Linked DNA regions of Homo sapiens: region 2 is linked to region 1. The links come from fine-mapping of genetic effects on gene expression. A gene starts in region 1. The other region holds a variant in brackets. All regions are shown on one strand. Distances are between the middles of the regions.

Region 1 (2,908 bases):
GCAGGTCAACTGGAGTGAGCCGCAGTGGCACCCTGCTCGTTAGCATATCGTGTATGGGCCCTTCTCCCTTCCCTGCCTCACTTCCCCTCCCCCTGTGTGTGCTTCCCGGGATCTGCTCCCAATAAACTACCTGCACTCAGGTCTTTGTCTGGGAGTCTCCTTGGGGGAAACCTAAACTAAGACAACTCCCCGTAGCACTCTGTTGCACTGTTTTCTAAGCACCCACTGTCTCCCTGGGGACCACATGTCCATCCCCAGAAAAAGCTCCTACTCTGCTGAGGGTGGTCAGGACTTGGAGTTACTACAGCGACATCTGTGGGTCGCCAGATCTGTGTGGAAGCAACCATGCCTTAACTCATCTCAGAGGATTCCATGAAAGCACCAGCGGGCAGATGGTCCCAGGGGTCTGTTTGCCCCCATTGAATAGGGCAGGCATGGTCCATGAGCGAAGAAGCCTCTAGCTGAAGTTGGTAAGTATGCACTATTGCAAAGAATGTGTCCAGGGCGTACAACTGGCCACCCCATCATCTCCCCCACTCAAGCAACAGAGCTTTTTTGCCTCCATATCTGGAAGTTGCCCTGAGCATGTAGAACACCTGCCCAATCGCAGCCCCTCCCCAGGAGGAAAGCAAACAGCTGGCTCTCTTGCCTTTGATCATGCGGGAGAGATGCTAAGAGGTAGGGAGAGTGGGGTCAGGTTCCAGGTAAGGTGGGAAAAGCAGAATCACAGAATGTCACAACCTGAAGGAGTTTGAAGTTCATTTATCCAAAAATTTTTAATTGGCAGCCTTGTGGACTGTGTTCAGTCTGAGACAGGTTCTCTTTGACCAAAACAAGATTTTTGCTTTAACGAACCCAAAGACTATTTTTAAAGTTCTCGAATTCCAGATTCTCTTGAAAACAATGGGAAGCTCTGACAAAGTGGAGTCCATGTTCCCACCTGCCAATAATCCGCTGGCTGGGGTTTAACGATGGGGAACACCTTTTTAGACCTTCAGGGTCCTGCCACAGGTTCAATCCTGTATGCCCAGAGCTTCCTGGGCACCAGTCATTTGAATGGGCAGTTCCTGTGTTTAACCAGGAAGGTCGTGGGAGGATTTCGAACCTGTCAGAAGCAAAGTGAAGGGCTCCAGACTCTCCGGACAGATGGGCTGAGGCACTCCTGGGATTGTCTTTATACGGCCATGGAATCTGATAGTGGTGGTCATCGCAAAGTTTGGGTGAGGACTTCAGGGGCTTTGAGCAGAGCAAACTGTCCCCATCCCCAGCTTCCTCCTGGGGGCCTCCTCCTTCACCGCCATCTCCAAAGGCCCACACCGCACTCGTCGGAGCCGGGCTTTCCTTGAAAGGGTCACCTTCTAGTGGGCGCGGACGCTGGCACTGGGCACCTCCGGAAGACAGGACTCTCCCCTCCTGCGCGCGCGACCCGGGTGCGGTGCCACGACTGGCGGCAGAGGGCGGTGCTCACTGTTCCCAAGCGCACGGTAGAAACCCGGCTACTGTGTGGTCCGATTCAGACGGGATGCGAAGGCGCTGAAATCCGTGCGAGAGGCTGCCCCCGCTGCCGGGGACTCGCGTCAGCGCGGCCGGAGCTACGGTGCCCGCGCCCTGGACGCACCAGCCCGAGAGCACGCGGTGGGGTGGGGGAGCTGGGCATCCACCCTTGGCCTGGACTAGGAGGCAGGCGGGGACCCCGGGGCGGAGTCCAGCGCGGGGCGGGGCGCACAGGTCCGAGACGCTGGAAAGAGCTGTGGGGCCGGAGCGCCAACTCCAGCTGGAACCCAGAGACCCTGACACGCCGGAGGAGCCCGCCGGGGCGAGGAAAAAAGAGGGACATCCCCCACGCAGCGGCTCTGCAAGTGCAAGTCCGGGTCCTCGAGGTGAAAACCGAGCGGCCCGCCTGCGCCCAACCACACTGTGACTCTCGATCCGGCTTCCGGAGCAGCAGAGCGCACAGAAAGGAGGCGCCGAGACAGGTAAGGGCTTAGATCCCTGCAGTCCCGGGACTCAGTCGGTGCGGTGGGGGAGTCGCTAGGACAAGGGCCTCTGACGCCCACTTTTTTCTCGGGCATTCCGGCTGCTTTGCCTCCCGCCACTCTCGAGATATGCGTCGGGGCTGGCTCCAAGCAGGCGAGTTGGTTTCAGGAGATCCCCTCTGGGCCCTCTAGGACCGGGTAGGGTACGGTAAGCGGAGTCTGTGGTGTGCGGGCGCGGGCAGAGGGAGCCAGCGGGTAGCTGAGCTCGCGGACGAGCTCCAAATTGCAGGGGAGGGTGCAGGTAGAGGGGCACCTTCCTGAAAGGTGAGCAGGAAACAGCAAGCGTCCGTGGGGAAATTCCCGCGCACCGCATCCTCCACCCACCCGCCGTTTTCTTCCAGCCAGGAGGCACCGCAGCCTTTGCTTCTAGAGCCTGAATTTCTGACTTGATTCCTGTCTTTGCCAGGATGTCGCCTCTAGACGCCGACAGTGCGGCCGCGTTGATGGGGCGGGAAGGGGGCTGCTGGAACGGGTCGCTCCCGGGCGGGGAGTGCAATCTACGAAAATGCGGCTGGGACCTGTCCCAGCCCGGGCGCGCGCCCTCTTGTCTTGGGTTAGGGGGCTGGAAAGCCGAGGAGGGGTAGGACTCCCCATTCTTGGTCCCACGCTGAGCAGAGGCTGCGGGGATTGGGGTGTCGCATGAGACGGAGGGGCGACCTGGAGAGAAGACACCTCCGGGTGTGGACGCCACTGGGATTTGCATCTCGCCTCTTGGAGGTTTTCACCTTGGGAAAGCAGCTGGCGGGCGCACCCCAGGTTAGGGTGTCTTTTGCTGGCGCGCAGTTCCTGTCCCTCGGCGTTCTCCTCCCCTCGCAGGAGTGGACCAAATGCATTGTTCAGCTGGGTCATCTCCTTGCTACCCAGCATCCCGC
Region 2 (2,908 bases), 120 kb before region 1:
AGCAACATAATAGTTAGAAATTGATGGCAGCTATTATGAATAAGGACTTTTGCTTTAGACAAGTTGATTTGTAGATTATTTTTCTGGCAGAAATTTGAAACCAGAGAACTGTTGACTATTGGATATCCTATGATTTTTTTTAATAGAGACGGGGTCTCACTTTGTTGCCCAGGATGTTCTTAAACCCTTGGGCTGACGCAATCCACACGCCTCAGCCTCCCAAAGTGCTAGGATTACAGGTGTTAGCTACCACACCTGGCTATTTTTTAAAAATCATAAAATGTGTGAAAAAATTACCATGTCAGTAAAAATTCCCTTCACACCAGAATTTGGCATAGTGTAGAAACAGGTTATTATTGAACTTAGAACATCAGGTTTTTGCCTGAAAAATTATTTCTACTTATCAAGAAATGTTCTTGAATGGAAGTGAACATTATGTCCAAGGCACTGACCTTTCATAAAAATAAACTGGAGAAAAATGCTTTTTTGAAAATAAGGACATTGACCTCACTGTTGGCTACTCTTAATGTGTTGTGTGTGAAATTCTGATTAAAGTATGATAACATTTCAAAAGTGTTGCTTAACCTAGTATACACTTTCAAGATATAATCTTTGACTGAGGAAGACTCAGTCTAGCGAAAGTCTTTTCTATAATGTGAACATGACTTTCAGACGAAGATGGTGATGGTACCATCAATATTTTGCCTTAAGAAACTTAAGAACTTAATACAAAAAATTTAAATGTACTCCCTTTAAGGGAAAGCCACCAGCAATTTCTAAACTTAAAGCAGGAAGATGAAAGGATAGAATAAATTGTGCCTTATATTCTACAATTCCAGAAGAAACATGAGCCCAACTCCGGGGTTGCACACAGTCATGCCAGTGTGATTTGGGGAGGAATCCTGAGGCTCCAGCCCTGGGCTCCAAGTTTTGATCCCTCAGCATTGGGTACAGAAGGCAGATTGATGCTGCTGGTGTGGAATTTCCTGGGGCCTGACTTCACTAACTCATCACATCTCATCATTCTTCCGTTCTCTCCTCTCTGAGTCCTTTTCTTCAGCTGTTGCACCATTTCTACTTTGTTCAGAGGGATAATGCTGGAAGGTATAGGATGTCAAGTTCACTCTGCTTTTATTTTTTATTCCCTTTGGCAGACAGTTGGCATCTGTGTGAAGATGTGAATGGAGGAGGCAGAGTAGGCAGTGAGTGCCGCAGCCACAGCTTGTGTTCTCTGCAGCCCTGGCACAGAAGATAGGAACACTCATGGGGGATGCGGCCACT[G/A]TGATGTCTTCCCACACAAGAAGTGCCAAGTGCTTTTCTCATGCTTTTCTGGATTGTCCCATGGTGGACGAGTCAGCAGGAGTGAGATGGAGCAGCACAGTAGAGGGGTACCTGGCAAGGCCCGGAGGGAGGACCCCCTGCCCCAAACATTTCAATGATATCAGGTGACAGCCGTGATCCTCTTAGCACCTGCTCTGTTTTGTCCCAGGCCAGGATATCGTTGTACATATTCTCAGCTAAGTGAGCACCAATAGAGGAGAGGGAGAGTCTCATGGAAGTTCCTTCTAAGCCTTTGGCTCTTTTTACCTTCAACAAGGTGTGCCACCTCTTTGATCCAGCAAGTGGGAAGAACAGTCCCGGCCTCTTTGCACACAAGACCGTGATACCAATGCACCATCACAGGCCCCACAGGGGAGCTGTCCGCTTCCCCACACAGCTGCTAGGGGCTCTTTTGCATGTTCCCAACCTTTCCTGCCTTTATCTGATATTCGTAAGTACAATTGTAGAAAAGGGAAGGGCTTTACTAGTCAGCAAGTGTCAGCAGGTTGAGGATCCTCTAAAGGCATCTTGGAAAATCAAGGAAGGAGACACATGCCTAATTCCTATGCTCTGTTACCCTGGCCTCCAGCAAAGTCTACCCTCATATCAGAGAGACCCATTGTAGATAAATATGGGCTGCCAAAAGCAAGACAAGCCTTGGGCAAACTGCCCAACAGATGGTTCAACTCTGTGTGTACCAGCCAAGGGCCAACGTGTCAGACAGTAGCTTCTGTTTGTGCCTTAAGTCGGAGTTGTGAATATAAGATAATTCCGGGATGGCAGGGATCCCACAGTTATGGATGTGGGATGGTTTAGTTCCATCCAAGACAAACTTAGGACATCCTCTTTCAGGGGTTTGAATACACAGCTTTCTCTGCTACCCCCTCAAAGCGTTGGCCACCAGAGCGGAGTGGTTAGAAGGGTGAAGGGCTTTAGACAGGAGGGAAGGAATGTCCTTGCATGGCTTACAGGATGGGGACCCTAGCCAAGATCTTGGTGCTTTGGCCTGCAGGCAGCATCAGAAGCCAGCCCAGGGAGTGGGGCAGTGGCCTTGTACAGAGGGCTAGTGGTGGCTAAATTTATGTGTCAACCTGACTAGGCTAAGGGATACTCACACAGTGGGTGGAACATGATTCCTAGGTGTGTCTGTGAGGCTGTCCCCTAGAGGTTGGAATTGGACTCAGTGGATTGGGTGAAGATCTGCTCTCACCCGTGTGGGTGGGCACCGTCCAATCCACTGAGGGCCCGAATAGAATAAAAAGGTGGAGGAAGGATGAATTCACTCCCTCTACTTGAGCTGGGACATCCATCTTCTCCTTGGACATCTGTGCCCTGCTTCTCAGGCCTTCAAATCCTGGGACTTACACAGGCTCCCCCACCCCCTGTCCCCCCAAGGCTAGTCCGATTCTCACTCTGTTGGACTTGAACCAAATTACACCACTGGCTTTTCTGGTTCTCCAGCTTGCAGCCAGCAGATGGGAGTACTTCTCAGTCTCCATAACCACATGAGCCAATTCCTATAATAAATCTCATAGCTATTGATCTATAACTATTTATTCTCTGGGAAACCTTTACTAATACAGGGCTC

Which allele goes with the higher level. Positions count from the first base shown, and alleles are read on the strand shown. Sizes are in standard deviations (SD) of each study's normalised expression.
For the expression in prefrontal cortex of the gene that starts at base 1,516 in region 1, G is the high allele of the variant in region 2 and A is the other (small effect, 0.29 SD a copy in GTEx).

What was found. PIP is the estimated chance that this variant, and not a neighbour inherited with it, causes the effect.
Region 2: its variant is fine-mapped to the expression of PROKR2 in prefrontal cortex (GTEx, PIP above 0.99).

What each region holds. Positions count from the first base shown.
Region 1 is chr20:5,315,562-5,318,469 of GRCh38, reverse strand. PROKR2 (prokineticin receptor 2) reads left to right here and starts at 1,516. Exons shown (of 3, transcript NM_144773.4): 1 at 1,516-1,976.
Region 2 is chr20:5,432,652-5,435,559 of GRCh38, reverse strand. LINC00658 (long intergenic non-protein coding RNA 658) reads left to right here. Exons shown (of 5, transcript NR_038240.1): 3 at 1,155-1,388; 4 at 1,490-1,771. Among named protein-coding and RNA genes, the nearest start is that of LINC00658, 12 kb to the left of the region's middle. The variant G/A (reference allele first, on the strand shown) is at 1,282.